Linked DNA regions of Homo sapiens: regions 1 and 3 are each linked to region 2. Evidence: fine-mapped expression QTL. A gene starts in region 2. Each other region holds a variant in brackets. All regions are shown on one strand. Distances are between the middles of the regions.

Region 1 (5,000 bases), 48 kb after region 2:
CCAGGACCCTTCTGAAGTGTGCGTATCTAGGTCCCTATACAACAACCCCTTATCCCTAGCGAGCTGGACCTGTGTTACATTCCTGCCCTAGGACAGTGTCAAGGAAAGGGATGGAGATGGGGTGGGGGGTGGGGGTGGGCAAACATCCTCCCTATTGCTGCCCAGAATAGAGAAGGGCAAATGAGGGCATTTTAGTAATATCCATCAAGATTACATCTGCATATTCGCTGTGACCAAGCAATTTCAGCTGTAGGAGTTTAGTGAAGCACCCTCTTTGTAGAGCAAAATCTCCCTCTTTTCTAGACCAGAATCACTAGCAGAAGGGTTATGAGGAGAAGAATGTTCCAGGTGGGCCCCGCGGCCACCGTGTATCATGCCCTCCATATTCACAGCTTTGATCCCCCTTTCCTCCTCAGAGCCCCGGACCCTGGCTCACTCTACTTGCTTTAAATAAAAAGCTATCTTTACATGCGAAAGCCTCAATTAATTAGAAACCACAGATCTAGGGCTCAAGTAAACCGGTCCTTTTGGTGTTTGAAGGTGAAAGTCACAGAGAGCAGATGCTGCCAAGAAGACACAGGGTTCAGCCCAAGTTCAACAGAATTCAAAGCAGCATTGAGACCGGCGCCCTGAAAGCAACAGCAAACTGTGAGGGGCCCTCCAGGACTGACCAAGCAGTGACGAAGCCAAGTCTGAAAGCACCAGAGGACGGCAGACATGGAAGCCACACTGCAAAGGTGAGCACAGCTGAAGGCGAGCAGCTTTGGGAGAAATGAACACACGCTGTGGAGTGATGGCCGGCTGGGCAACCAGAGCAGGAGGACACTCACACAGTGAGGCACTGTGGGTACAAGCCACAGGGAGAGCGGCACTGCCTGGAAATGACCGCACGAGCCATCCTGGGACACTCCTCCCACAGACCTGAAGTCCAAAGCCAAAGCGGGGGCTCTGGAAATAAGCAGGCATGGATGCGCTGAAAAGAAAATTAAGGTCTGATGCGAGACCATATGACGACAGGCTTGGTAAGTAATGCTGCTTGACATCTTCGCAAGATCCCACTCAAAAAAGCTACAGAATCCATCACTGCGCCCATGCATCAGGACAGCAAGAGGCTGCTCTGCAACAACACACAAGGGAGAGACACCCCCCAATCCAGGTTAACGCATTTTACCCAAAGGGGCTTAAGAACAAAAAGCCACTCGACAAAAACAGGAAGAGCAAGCGACCATCATGTCACATTCACGGCTGAGGCTGAGAAGGGTGAACAGAAACCAGTAACTCAAGCCCCTGCTCTTCCATTCAGCTCCCCACCCTCACTGAGTTAGTAAAAGAGGCAAAAAGGCAATAACTGCCCTTATATGTAACATTAGAGGGTCACATAAAATACCGTGGCCCACCAATGGCAAACACAGCTCCTTTGAATTTTCAAAGGTGTCACATGTCAACCAATTTCTTATAAAGCACCAAGGAATGTATGGAGGATCTTATTACTTTCCATTTAATGCCACTCTATTCCTATGCCAGTATTTTAAAAAGACTTATCACCAAAAAAAAAAAAACAAAAAAATGAAAGACAACATGGGTGAATTTATTTATAACACTGACACAAAGGCCTTTCCAAGCATGACATAAATCTCAGACGCCACAAAGGCAAAGACAAATACATTCGACAACGTAAAAGTACATGACAAAAAAAATACCCCTTTTCGCCAAAAGCCAAAAGATAAATGATATATTGAGGAAAAATATATGCATATTTGACAAAGAACTACTTTCCAAATTCCTTAATTTACAAATCAAATTAGGTGACATACACAAAAAAAACCCCTATGGGAGAATGGGCAAAGGATACAAACAGCTCAAAAAAAAAAAAAAAAGAAAAATGACAAAAAAAGAAGCAAAGATGCTAAAATTTACTTCTGATTAAAGACGTTTGAAATACAAAAAGAAAAAATAATGAGATACCATTTTTAACCCATCAGCCTTGCACACAGTTTAAAAGAGCTGGCAAGTGTAGTCCTCAGGAATGAATAATTTGGTA[A/G]TATCTATCAAAATGTAAAAGGCATTTACCTTTTGGTCCACAAGTAACGGGGAGGAATTAAGCCTACTAATATATAGGACCTACAAAAGTGTAAGAGAGACATATGAGAACAACCACTAAGAATTTTTCTTTGCTATAGCAAAAAAAAAAAAAAAAAGGAACCCCCAAAGGAAACTGGTTTCAAAAAATATAATCAACAATGAAATACTACGCAGCTATTAAGAAGAGTGGGTAGATCTGTATGCTTTGATATGGAAGGAGTGCTAAGATTTAGCCAAAAACAGCAAGATGTAGACTAATATGTATGCATATATGTCATTCCCTTCATGTACGTTTTGTAAAGGAATTATATTACGTTGCTTGCTGTATCCATTTTGGAAGGAACCACGTGGTACTATTAATGGTGGTCACTGTGGGGAAGGACTAAGGAGAGGGAAGGGAAACAGACTTTATTTTATACCTTTGCATTTAAAAAATCACATAACTATTATTCTCACTAAAATTTTTTTTTAAGCCATGTAGGTTAGTACCTACAAATATATAATTTTTTAAACCAAGGAATCTAGAGTAGAAAGATGGGCTGCAAATGGATAATTATTACATCAAGCAGACAGTTATAAAGGCAGAAACGAAGAACTACAAGGAACAATACAAGGCTGATTACTTTTGACCAAAAAGATTTTTAAAAAATCAAAATAGAACAAAAGAAAACTTCATGGAGGAAGATATTTTTGAACAAGGCCTTGCATTTCAAAGGGAAAAAAAAGAACACTCCAGACAGAAGGAAAAGCAGGAACAGGGCACAGGGGAATGCAAACAGCGTCTGGGGTAGAGCAGGCAGCATGCAGTGGCCCCAGCTCAGGGACAAGGAAGGCCATGGAAGGAGAAGGCCACAGTCAGAAGGTGGAGGGCCTTGAATACTCAGAGAACTCAAACAGAATTCTGGCGGCAGCACCTGGAGACTGAGGCATGGTGTCTACTCGGAGGCCACGTAGCTCAGCCAGGACAAGCTGGGCTCAGGTTTTTCACGGGGTCGTGGGAAATATGGGGCTGGAGCTAGAGAGAAATATTAGACCCGAAGATACTGATTTGGGAGTGACTGTGTACTGACTGAGGATCGTTTTGGTAAAATGAGGTTACTCGGGGAGGGAAAAAAAAAAGAGAGAAGGCTGAGAATAGAAAGGGTGTTTGCTCCTAGAAAAGAGGAATGGAAACACAGCACCTGATGAAGGGGGTAACATCCTCACCTAGCCCTCTCCTCAAGCCTTTCCACTGACTAGTTTTGTTTTTGTTTTGTTTTGAGACAGAGTCTTGCTCTGTGCCCAGGCTGGAGTGCAGTGGTGCAATCTCGGCTCACTGTAACCTCCGCCACCCAGGTTCAAGTGATTCTCATGCCTCAGCCTCCTGAGTAGCTGGGATTACAGGCATGTGCCACCACATTCAGCTAATTTTTGTGTTTTTAGTAGAGACAGGGTTTTACCATGTTGACCAGTCTGGTCTCGAACTCCTGGCCTCAAGGGATCCGCCTGCCTCAGCCTCCCAAAGTGCTGGGATTACAGGAATGAGCTACTGCGCCCGGCCCCATTGGCTAGTATCTTTAAGTAAAATTCTGCACCACGTATTCTGTTAAGCTGTGAGGAAATGCAACAATGGAAAACTAATGACATCCTCTCACACTGCTGACCCATTCTGCAGAGAACCTAAAAATAAGAAGGGACTCTCAGATGCCATCTGGGCAAAACACCCACCTGGGCCTTAAAATCTCCTCTACAACTTTCTTGGATAAAGCCTTGGAACTGTCTCCACATATCAACAACCAGAACAAAAGTAAAAATGTAAAAGCTGAACAATTAGAAATGTGCTGATTCTGTGAGACTCCTCACTGCTGAGCTTCCACTCCTGGCGGTGAGCTCTCTGAGGGCAGGGACTGCGTGCCCAGAGCCCAGCAGTGTGTCTGGGGCAGAGAGGCTCTCAGTACATGTCAACTAAAACAAGCTGGTGGCTCAAGATCCATGGACTGCCACTACAGCCGCACCCTCAGCTCTGAACTTTTCCTTCTGGAGACCCCAGAGATGCGGGATCGTCTCTGCCCACAGCAAAATCTAGCACGGTGGCTTATTCCAACCTAACCCATAAACAGTCTAATTTGCTCCACAAGATGCTACACTTTGTTTAAAAATATCCAGTTACACTTCCAAGAAAAGAAAGGAAAGTTACAAATTTGGAAGTTGTTTAAGGCACCAGGAGGTACCCATTATTCTCAATCAAGATGCTCATGATTCCAAACCCAGATTTGCACCTGCTGGCTTCAGTCATTTGCTGATACCTGAGACACAGCTCAAACGAGGCTTTCTCTGGCAGGCACTGGAAACCTGAAGATCCCTAATTTTCATTTTCATACAAAGTCATTAAAAAGACCACAGACTGAAGCACCGCAGACAAAAGGCATGGTAACAGAAGTAACAATTATATAAAAATAACTTTTCTAGGTATTTCTGCCTGGGTCTAGATTAAAACCAAAATTGAGCTGTCATGAGCTACAATCTAATCTTTTAGAAAGCAGCAGTCAAATAACACCAGGGCTGTGTGAAACATTCTGGTGCTACTGAAACCCAATGCAAGAAAAAAAAAATAAATAAAATGGCATTCTGTGATGGATATTCATGAAGCACTCATCCTAATTTAAAAGAAAACAAGTTTAGAGTTCTTACTGCATTAATTCATGTGAGCCTGAAAGAACATTTTTATCCAAACTGTTACATTTCCTACCAAGGCGTTAACATTCTCCAGGTCTGCTCAGATACACTAATTCCAAGAGGGTGCGATTTGTCTTTTAGTCAATGCAAAACATCATCAGAAGCTTCTTCTGAGCTTTCCAAGCAGGAGAGGAATGGCCTCTTTAATTTTACTAGCAATGACAAGGACTAACGGTCAGTAGGCTCCTACTGTGTACAGTATG
Region 2 (5,000 bases):
GGCCAGCACCATGGTTCCTGGCCCCTAAAGTCCCACAGCTTCTACAGTGAAAAAAAAAAAATTCAGGTTAGTAGAGAAGGCTCCACCTACCTTCACTTCTGTCCATGCAACGAAGGTAGGAGGCATTACAGTTTGGACTGGTCAACTACCAGTGAGCAGAGGCACTGGGCTTTGAAAGGTCACATATATGGGTATACAACACTCTTCTGAAATTCAGAAAAAGCCCTGTCATCCTGCTTCCTTCTCCCCGCCCCTGTGGGTACACAGTGGAGTCAGGCATTGCCTTCTTTTGGGGGTCTTCTTTTGGGGATTTTTGTGTGTTTTGAGATGGAAAAGTCTCACTCCATCGCCCAGGGTGGAGTGCAGTGGCACGATCTCGGCTCACTGCAACCTCCGCCTCCCACGTTCAAGCAATTCTCGGCCTCAGCCTCCTGAGTAGCTGAGATTACAGGTGCCCGCCACCATGCCCGGCTGACTTTTGTATTTTTTAGTAGAGAGGGGGTTTCACCATGTTGGCCAGGCTGGTCTCGGACTCCTGACCTCAAATGATCCACCCGCCTTGGCCTCCCAAAGTGCTGGGATTACAAGCGTGAGCCACCGCGCCCGACCCTCTTGGAATGTGGTAAAATCGGGGTCTGTACTTGGATGGGGGCAGAGGGACTTCCATAGCCTCAGGCCTGAGCTTTATGTTCCAGCTCAGAGTCCTCACCGGGGTTGGGGTCTAAAGGTCAGCAAACAAATGTTCTGCTGCTTCCACTTGCCACTGCTCCCTGCGTTGCAGCAGCTCCCTCAGAGGCCTCGCAGAGAGAAGCAGTCACGATCCAAGACACGGCTGAGTCTTTTGGGAACTCCCAACAAAACCTCATCCCAAACTGCGAAAAGACAGTGGTCTAGTCTCACCTCTTAACTAGAAACAAACCCTCTCTTCTTTAGACTCTCCAGTCCCTGAATCCAACCTGCCCATCGGCACAAGAAAAAGGAAACTCATAACTTTATCCAGCGATTTGCTCAGTAGGCACTGTTTCATCCTATCCTCACCAGGCCCCTGGGAGGCACACAGGCAGGTACTAACATGCTCATTTTGCAACGGAGGAAACAGGTGAAAAACTCTCCCAGGTAGCATAGTCAAAAGCTTCTGAATTCTCATCCCTGCTCTCCCCACTTAACAGGCTGCCATTTCAGTCTTTTTGAGACGCACTGCTGAGATCTACAGCAGCTTCTGGTACCAGTGGCCAGCAAGCCAGGACCCCTCCCAAGCCTCATACTACTCTTCAAGCACACACATTTTTCAACAACCGATCATCCAATGACAACCAACCCCCCGCCCCCCGCATCCTGGCAAGCCCCTTCAATAGCAACAGGAAAGCCCCTGAGGTGCGAAAAACAGCGCGCCCCACTTAGGGCGCGGCGTAGCATAGGGGAGGCAACCGGCCAGTAACCAGGGCAGCTGAGCTCCAAGCCCGAGTCAGCAGAGGCACAGGCAGGCCCGGACGGCCCTTCTAGCGGCAGCCCCGGATGCCCCCAGAATCCTCAGGGAGCCCAAAGCCCCCGCTCCCACCCAAGCACCCCTGGGCAGCGGAGAGGGCGGCCTTTCCTTCTCGGGCGACCACTCACCCTCGCCTGCTCCTCACCTGGGGCCCTGCTTCCGTACCGCAGCCACCCGGGCCCCGCCCCCCACCGCTGCAGGTCCCCGGGCCCCGCCCCCCGCACCTGTGCTTTCCTTGGGTCCAGCGCGGGCCGCACCCCACAGCCCCGCCCACGGCAGCCCCGCCGGCCCCGCCCCCCGCACCTGCAGCCGCGGCGCCCCGCCCAACTGCCCCCCCGGCCCCGCCCCCCGCGCCCGCGCCTCTTCCCCGCCGTCCTTCACGCTCCCGGGGACCAGCGCGCCCCTGGCCCCGGACCCCAGAACCCCCGGACCCCGGCCAGGCCCCGGCGCCGGGCACCCGCAGGCACGGCCCCGGCCCCGCCTCCCGCACCGAGGCCCCTCCCCGGCTTCGGCGGCCCTCGGGGTCCCGCCCCCCACACCTGCAGCTCCCTCAGGCCCGGCCTCAGGGCCCGCCCCGCCCCGCCCCGCCCCGTCGGCCGCGCCTCTCACCGCCGCTCTCCCCGCCGCCGCAGTCCCGGCCGGTCACCTTGACGCGGGCCGCAGTGGCTGCCGCCGCTTCCTCATGGCCCTGGGAGCGGCCCAGCGGCAGCGGCGCCTTCGCTTGGAGGCCGGGGCCACGCCGAGCCGGGCCGGGGCCGGGCCAGGCGCAGCTGGAGCGCGGGCAGACGCGGGAGCGGAGCCGGTGCCCAGCCGCAGTAGGAACCGTCCGCTCCAGGGCCTGAGCGGCGGGCCTCTCATCCAATCGGCGCGCGGCACCAGAACAGCCCCCCAACCAGCTCGTTGTAGGGGCGGAGACACGCAAATCGGCCGGCTGGTCGTACCAGTGCGCAGCCGCTGCATCCGCGGTCCTCCCGGGCCTCGGCCTCCGAGCTCATCTGCAGACGCCCTCCCCGCCCGCAGGGATGCTGCGCTGCCAGCACACCCGGCCCGCCGCCCGCCACGCCCATCCCCTGCCTAGAAATAGCCGCGCATCTTATTCCCCACACGGCCGTCCAGGCCTCACCCGATATCCCCCGTAAATCCCTACCTGGGATTTATCGTTTTCAACAAAAATGGTTTTGTGAGCGAGACATCGCCTTAGTGCCCATTCTTCACAGCTGGGAGGTAGGCACAGAGCCCAGAACGTCAGAGCCAGAAGAAACCTCGGAGTTCCTGGCGGGGCGGGGGGGGGGGCGGTCTCATCCATTTTACAGCTGGGCAGAGTTAGGCCCAACGAGGTGAAGGGACTTGCCCAAGACCACACAGGAGCAAAGCTGGGGAATGAGCCCGGATCCTGTCTCTCTGCTCCCACATCTTTACTCTGTGCCAGGCACGGTGAGGTGGGCACAGAGGTTAAGTCATTTAGCTAGAGTCGCAGGGATAATAAATTGCAAAGACAATTGAAGCCAGGTCTGTGAATCCCTGGAAATCTGGAACCACAGCAAAACTCCGTTCTGCCTCCCACAGACAGGAGGTACTATGACCTGCCCTACTCCGAAAGATTCTTGGACAAATAGAACATCATTCTGACAATCTTCAAAGTAATTTTGCAGTAATATGAATGAATATGGAATGATTGGTTATTATGCTTCCCAAAGCTTATGAAAGGAAAAAAGAAACAAACAAAAAAGAATATAAATAGAGTCAGTAGAAGTTAAACCACCTGTGTCTTAAAAGACCTCTGGGAGAAGTTTCTGCTATTTTGTATTAAGAAAACGGTAATCATCGAAGAAGGTGCTTAATTATTTTGCATAAAGAGAACAAGAGCCTGGCGAGTTGGCTCATGCCTGTAATCCCAGCACTTTGGGAAGCCAAAGCGGGAGGATTGCTTGAGTTCAGAAGTGTGAGACCAGCCTGGGCAACATGGCCAGACCCTGTCTCTAATAACAATACAAAAATTAGCGAGGCGTGGTGGCGCAGACTGTAGTCCCAGCTACTCAGGAGAGTGAGATGGGAGTATCACTTGAGCCCGGGAGGTCAAGGCTGCAGTGAGCCTCAAGTGATGGCGCCACTGCACTCCAGCCTGGATGACAGAGCGATACCCTGTCTCAAAAAAGAGAGAGAGACCATCCTGGCTAACATGGTGAAAACCTGTCTCTACTAAAAATACAAAAAATTAGCCGGGCGTGGTGCGGACGCCTGTAGTCCCAGCTACTCGGGAGGCTGAGGCAGGAGAACGGCGTGAACTTGGGAGGCGGTGCTTGCAGTGAGCTGAGATCGCACCACTGCACTCCAGCCTGGGCGACAGAGCGAGACTTCGTCCCAAAAAAAAAAAAGAAGAGAGAGAGAGAACAAGAGACAGTGTAGTGCAATGGTTCTGCCCTGGCTCTGCCACCAGCAAGCTGTGTACATGTGAGCAAGTTACTTAGCATATCTATGTGCCTCCGTTTCTTTCTTTTTTTTTTTTTTTTTTTTTGAGACGGAGTCTTGCTCTGTTGCCCAGGCTGGAGTGCAGTGGCACGATCTTGGCTCACTGCAACCTCCGTCTCCCAGGTTCAAGCAATTCTCCTGCCTCAGCCTCCCAAGTAGCTGGGATTACAGACGCCAGACACACCATGCTCAGCTAATTTTTGTATTTTAGTAGAGATGGGTTTTCACCATGTTAGCCAGGTTGGTCGCGAACTCCTGACCTCAGGTGATCTGCCTACCTTGGCCTCCCAAAGTGCTGGGATTACAGGCTTGAGCCACCGCGCCCAACCTGCCTCGGTTTCTTTATTGAAAGATGAGAATGATAAAAGTAGCAACCTCTTTAGACAGGCTGTTGGCAGGAATTAATGAGATGATACATGGAAGAGTGCCTGGCACCTAACAGGACCTCAATAAACATTGGCTACTATTATATTTACCTGTGTGACTTTGGGCAAGCACAGAAGTGTGTGCAATGTACGCTTGCTAAATGGCATCTATACTTTTATTATGCTTATGCATACTTTCTAAGTTTTTTCAATGAACACAGATTCTTTTGTGATATATTAGAAGTTATTATAAACCCAATTTTAAAATGAGGAAAGGTCATTTAATATTGATTCTTGATGCTTCCAGAAGGATGTATTCATTCTTTCTACAAATATCTAATGGTTCTCTGCTATGCGCCAAGTGCTACTGTAAATGCTGAGAAAACAGCAGTGAATAAAAGAGACAAAAATTCTTGTCCTCGTGGAGTTGACATTCTAGTGGGGTAAGGCAGCTATTAAAATCAATATTTACAGTAGTAGGCTAGATAGAGAAAAGTGCTATGGGAGTAAAATGAAGCAAGGAAGAAGGGAGTTCAACGTTAAAGAAGACAGAAAAGTTTAGATGGTGATAAGCGAGAAATAATAGGTTTCTTAAAGCAATAAAGCCAAGTGCAGTCTGAGAAAGAGAGAGAGAGAGAAGGATCTGAATAGACATTTCTCCAAAGAAGATACACAGTGGT
Region 3 (6,226 bases), 61 kb before region 2:
AACCTTCACCTCCTGGGTTCAAGCAATTCTCCTGCCTCAGCCTCCCTATTCAGCTACTTTGAAATGGATTTTTGTTTACCTGATCTCACACGCACACACACACACACCCTGGGTAAAATAACCAAAACCTTGTTATCAATTGCCAAACATTTCCAGGAATTTTTTTAAGACCAAAATCAACTTTTTACCCTTTATTGAATATGCTGTTTCTAAAAATGTACATATGCTTTTTTTTTTTTTGACACTCACTATTTTGCTCAGGCTGGTCTCAAACCCCTGATCTCAAGCGATCCTCCCACCTAGGGCTCCCAAAGTGCCGGGATTACAGGTGTGAGCCACCACACCTGACCCATATATGCTTTCAATGTAAATATGTACATGTTTGCTTCGGCAACTGGTTTCAAAAATAGAAACAAGGCAACCACCAGAATTTGGGATGAACAAAAAGAGAACTTTCCAGAAAAATGTTCCCTCACATCACTTCTTGAAAGCAAACATTTTCAGCAGGAGGAGCCTGGGAAAAGGAATGAGGGTGTTAAGACCTGACTCTCAGGCGTGGAGTCCTGTGGGTACCAACTGCTCCCAGCCCTGCCAGAGTAGGCCAGACGGGAGACATTCTCTGGAAAATCCAAATACTGGGCTCAAAAACATGAGCACCATCAAGAATAGAATGGGGTTTAAATGGATAACATGCATTTATAGAGCCTGCAAGAGAGAAACTGAGACACTCTAACAGTGGCTGGCTAAATCCTCGCTGCCCACCCACAGCATGAATAGAAGAGTAGAAAGACAAAGTACAGACCTCCGGCTGGATAGCTTTAAACACAGGTATATCCATTAATGTAATCTGGCTCTGCAACAAAAGAGAATCAATTTTAGAAAATACTGTACATCAAAGATAACTGTCATGTTACTTTATACAGAGTCATATACACTCATAAAAGTTATACTTTCCCCTTTGAGATAAAAAACAAGACCAAATAGAGTAAAAAATTGGATACATTTCTGAAATGCCTCTCCCATCCCTTCCCCCGCTTCATAAATTCTGATCCACACCCTTCTTTCTTGAATGTGAGATGAACTTTCAATTTAGGAATTGATAAAAGTTGTTTGGGGGGTGGGCCTGGGAGAAAAGGGAACAGTTTTATTTGAAAATTTTCATACTATTTGAATTTGTATTTCAAGCATGAACTACTTTTGTAATTTTTTAAAGTTGTAGAAACAATATTTAAAATTAGAATGCTAAACAGAAACACTATTACTATAAATTAAGTTCATTTTAAAGCTGTGGCTTATAGAAATTATATTTTTCTTCTGAAGTCATTGATACTGCCCCTAAATTATATGGTAGAGTGCTATTCAAGACGCACCCACAGACCAGCACGGGACAACAAACTGTTTATTCCACCAGCCCACAATGAGAGAAGTACAGAAGCTGAGAGCAAGCATTTGGAACTTGCATAGCAATTTTTTACATGACCATGACATTTCCATTATATACATTTTAAGTATCTGTCCTCAAATTATTGCAAATGGAAAAAACTAGTCCTTCACCACAGCCGGCTTAAGATGCAGCAATGTCATCAATAGAGAAGACACACATCAGGTTAAAAGGCTGTGCCCATCATAAGAACCTCATCTGGTGACAGTAACAGGAAGCATCATGCTGACCATTTTTCAGACCAAGGCATGAACTGAACTGACTTCACGTGATCCACCTACCTCCATGTCACATGGGATGCCAGATGTCAGTTAAGAGATGCCTCTGTGACACGCCAGGGAGAGGAGAGCTGAAGACCTTTGGATGCCTTTAATGTGAGAAGACACTCTGTCCATTGAACACAGGCCATCCAGGATGACATGATACAGGGAACAAATGGGCTCTGGAGTCTACAGGGCTTGGGTGTGTGTCTGGACACTGTCACTTAACGGCAATGTTCTCTTTGACACACAATCTCTCTCAGTCAGGTACCACATCTAGAAAATGATGACAATAATCCCTATTTTATGGGATCTTGGTGAAAATTCAAGACAAGAGGTAGCGTTCCTGGCACCTGACAGATGCTCAATAAACACATAAGACAGTGTGTTTATGTGTGTGTATCTGAGTGTGTGTGTGTGTGTGTGAGTATATGGTGTGTGTGACTGTGAATGTGAGTGTAAGCGTATAAGTGTGTGTATGTGTGAGGGTGTACGTGTGTGCGTGTATATGAAAGTGTGTGTGTGTGTGTGTGAGAATGAGTGTTGAGTGTAAGGGGGTGTGTGTGTGTCAAAATGGAAGCCACACAGATGGGCTCATGTACTGGCATGTGAACTTACGGTTCCTGACCAATACATAAGCTAGCAAATAAGGGACCATTAATTTGGTTGAATATTCATGCACTGAGGTTGCTCTAAAGAACATGTTTAAAATCCACTGAGCCAGTAAAAACCCTTGTATTAAGAATATATTAGAGAAAAATGGCAACACACTCAAAGGTGGTCCAAGGTCACTGGGTTCCTGAGAAGCACGGGATACAGGCCAAAGCAGACCATCCTCAGGCAGAGTGGAGAGGAAAACATGCAGCTGGCTTCAGTGGAGAGCCTCTTTGTACTCTCCCAGGAGCGGAGCTAGTGTTCTTCATGGAAACGGGTGAGATGCTGCCACCAGCCTGGCTGAGAGGTGGGAGAGAGGACCAGGAATAAGGAAGCACTGGAGCGGAATCTGAGCTCTTCCGCCTCCAGTTTCCACCCAACACCTCTTGATGTCAAGGAGACTCTTGACATCAGCATAATGTATCTGGCCCTCATAATCTGGGTGTTGAGTGGCCAGTAAGCCCTGAAGGCCTATAGGTCTATGTTTGGCCTAGAGCTCCATGGCTCAGAACTATGTCCTGAGCAGTGCAAACAGACTGGCATTTCTTCTGCCAGATCCATCAAGATGGTTAGCCAAGTGCTTCTCATATTTGGATTAAGTCTGCCATCCTGGGGAACAGAAAGGCCTTGTAAAGACAGGAGATTTGACCTGAAAGCTCAGAGGACCTTGGAAATCTCCCCTGCACTTCAAGTTAACACCCTATCCGGGAGAACCGGCAGGATGTTTGCAATGTCATTTAGGAAAAGAACCAAACGTCTGCTAATGTGAAAATGAGAAAACTTCCTTTCCATCCTGCCACCAGTTCTAGGGTTTGCTACTGAATTTCCAGATGATTTATTAAAGCAGTGACCTTACATTTCACACTTTTTGGATGGTCCAAGTTTCAAATATTCTGCTCTCTGCTCAGACCATAAGTCAGAAAATGTGTTCAGGTGTTTTATTCAAAACAAACAACAACAGAGGTCACCAGACTTAGACTAGCTAGTCCGAAATACATAATGAGGTTTCAGAAGAATCTCTATTTCTATCCTTTCAATTCTGACCAAAAAAGATACAGTATCTAGAGCAAGGATATTTTGATACAAGATACTTACAAAGATCATCAGATTATCGATTTCATGCCATTTTACTAAAAAGCCAAACATATGTTAGAGGTCGCTGATGAGTAATCCTTCCCTGGAAGTTTGAACCCTCAAGGCC[A/G]CTCAGTTTTACCAAAAAGGGGGGTGGGAAGTATGGGTAGGGGTTGGGGTAAGAGGTGAGGTCAGGTCCTGTCACACTTCATAGCCAGCTCTCGGGACCATCTCAGCGCCCTGTCCCTCCCTCAGGAGAGGTACCTTGGTTTCCTGGAGAGAAAAGGCATTTTCTAGGGGTATGTTACAGCCTCAACAGAAACATGAGACAAGGAGCCTCCCACTCTCGTTTCCAAGCAGCAAATCCGGCCAGTAGTGGGGCTGAGCGAGAACACTCGTAAGTCTCTTAATGGCCTATCCTTATTTTGAGAAATAAAGCATTAACATAGGATGTCCAGTCAAGCTAGTCACCTGGCAATGGCTTCCTTAAGCCTTCTCCCATCTCCTCCTTCCTCCTAGTCCAGGGCCCTCTAAAAACCCAGGCTTTTAAGGGAAATGCTACTTGGTTAGCCAAAAGGAAAAAAAAAAGTTTTTTGCATATGTTAAATGTAGTATTTCTCCTCTCTAACAGTGGCTGACTAAATCCTCTCTTCCCAGCCTCAACCTTAAATGTAAGGGTCTTCCAGACCCCAAATAAACAAACAAAAAAAGCTGTTGGCTTTACCCCACTCCACCAAGGCATGGCCAGGAGGGCGCACAGAACAGAGTAATCAGCTCCAAAGATCTATTCCTGCTTTGACTCACAGAACCACAGAAAGCCCGTGTCCGGCAATTTAGAAAAGAGTCAGGGGATGGGCCTAGGAACTGTTCTGTTCCTTTTGAAAATTAATCTAGCAGTAACTTATTTAAAGCTTTTTTAACTTTTCATTTTTAAAAAATGTCAAACTAGGCTGGGCACAGTGGTTCATGCCTGTAATCATAGCACTTTGGGAGGCTGAAGCTGGCGGATCACTTGAGGTCAGGAGTTCGAGACCACCCTGGCCAACATGGTGAAACCCTGTCTGTAATATGACATACAAAAATTAGCCGGGTGTGGTGGTGCATGTCTGTAATCCCAGCTACTCAGGAGGCTGAGGCAAGAGAATTGCTTGAACCCGAGAGGAGTGGGTTGCAGTGAGCCGAAATCGCACCACTGCACTCCAGCCTGGGAGTAAGTGAGATTGTCTCAAAACAAAACAGAAAGTCAAATCTACAGAAAAGTCACAAAGACAAATACTATATGACTCCACTTACATGAGGTAACTAGAAGAGTCAAAATCATGGAGTCAGAAAGTAGAGTAGTGGTTGCTGGGGGTTGGGAGGAGAGGGAATGGGGAGTTGTTTAATGGATACAGAGTTTCCATTTTGCAAGACGAAAGCAGTTCTGGAGATTGGTTACATGACACTGTGAATGTACTTAACACTGCTGAATTGTACACTGAAAAATGTTAAGATAGTAAATTTTATATTACGTATATTTTGGCACAATCAAAACGAATAAAAGAGCCACCCCAGAAGTTCTTCAATGTGACTTGTCCCAATCACAAGTCTCTCTCCCACCAAAAGTAACCATTATCCTGACTTTCTTCAAGTTTTTTAAATAATTTAATCACTCAAGTATATACACCTATACATCACAGGGTAGTCCTGTCCACTTTTTTAAAAATTTGATAAGTGCTATCTACCTACCTACCTACCTACCTACCTATTTTAGAGAGAGTGTCTTACCTGTTGTCCAGGCTTGAATGCAGTGGTGTGATCATACCTAGTGAGCTAACCTCAAAATTCTGGGTTCAAGTGATCCCTCCTGCCTCAGCCTCCTGAGAAGCTACAACTACAGGTATAAGCCACCATGCCCAGCTAACTTTTTAATTTTTTGTAGAGATGGATTCTAGCTCTGTTGCCCAGGCTGATCTCTAACTCCTGGCCTCAAACAATCCTCCCACCACAACCTCCCAAAGTGCTGGGATTACAGATGTAAGCCACCATGCTCAACCTGATACATACTTTTTGTTTGTTTTGAGATGGAGTCTCGCTCTGTCGCCCAGGTTGGAGTGCAGTGGCGCAATCTCGGCTCACTGCAACCTCCACCTCCTGGGTTCAAGCGATTCTCCTGCCTCAGCCTCCTGAGTAGCTGGGACTACACGTGTGCGCCACCATGCCTGGCTAATTTTTGTATTTTTAGTAGAGACAGGGTTTCACCATATTGGCCAGGCTGGTCTCAAACTCCTGACCTTGTGATCCGCCCACCTCAGCCTCCCAAAGTGTTGGGATTACAGGTGTGAGCCACTGCCCCAGCCGATATGTACTTTTAAAATCTCTTTTAATCTACAAATATTCTCTCCATCCCTTTATATTCCTTGTAATACATCTGCTGAAGAATCCAAGCCATAAGTTCTCCACACTTATGGAACAGGTCAATGTGTTCTTCCATTCTTGGTATGTCTGCAAATCAGCAGCTGGACCCAGGGACTTCATCAGACACAGGTGCATCCCTTTGGCAAGACCGCAGGTGGCGGCACACTGCTTCATCAGGAGGCACACAATGGCTCTCCTTTTGTAATGTTAGTGGCTATTGATGTTCACTGCTTAGATATTTTCATTCACTGGGGTTACAAAATGATGATATTCCAATTCTTTCATTTCTTTTCCTTTTCTTAACTGAATAATTTAATAGACACTTTCCCTCATCTACTGTTTGGTTATCCAGTGTAGTTTGTTCAAAAGTAAAAGGTAGGACAAATGCTTGATTCTTTCCTCA

Direction of the effects. Alleles are on the strand shown, and positions count from the first base shown. SD is a standard deviation of normalised expression in the study named. Not every link is listed here.
As copies of A replace G in region 3, the expression in Th17 cells of the gene that starts at base 2,326 in region 2 goes up (large effect, 0.88 SD a copy in Schmiedel 2018).

Evidence for each region. PIP is the estimated chance that this variant, and not a neighbour inherited with it, causes the effect. A credible set is the group of variants that fine-mapping cannot tell apart.
Region 1: its variant is the best candidate, but not a certain one, in a credible set for the expression of RALGPS1 in whole blood (GTEx, PIP 0.84).
Region 3: its variant is the best candidate, but not a certain one, in a credible set for the expression of RALGPS1 in Th17 cells (Schmiedel 2018, PIP 0.59).

Annotation. Positions count from the first base shown.
Region 1 is chr9:126,864,325-126,869,324 of GRCh38, reverse strand. The region is part of intron 1 of ZBTB34 (zinc finger and BTB domain containing 34); the gene reads right to left. Among named protein-coding and RNA genes, the nearest start is that of ZBTB34, 6.2 kb to the right of the region's middle. RefSeq lists an enhancer at 272-853. The variant A/G (reference allele first, on the strand shown) is at 2,042.
Region 2 is chr9:126,912,108-126,917,107 of GRCh38, reverse strand. RALGPS1 (Ral GEF with PH domain and SH3 binding motif 1) reads right to left here and starts at 2,326. Exons shown (of 19, transcript NM_014636.3): 1 at 2,133-2,326. RefSeq lists enhancers at 22-71, 1,365-1,434 and a silencer at 1,925-2,354.
Region 3 is chr9:126,972,322-126,978,547 of GRCh38, reverse strand. RALGPS1 (Ral GEF with PH domain and SH3 binding motif 1) reads right to left here. Exons shown (of 19, transcript NM_014636.3): 4 at 803-853. Among named protein-coding and RNA genes, the nearest start is that of RALGPS1, 61 kb to the right of the region's middle. The variant A/G (reference allele first, on the strand shown) is at 3,557.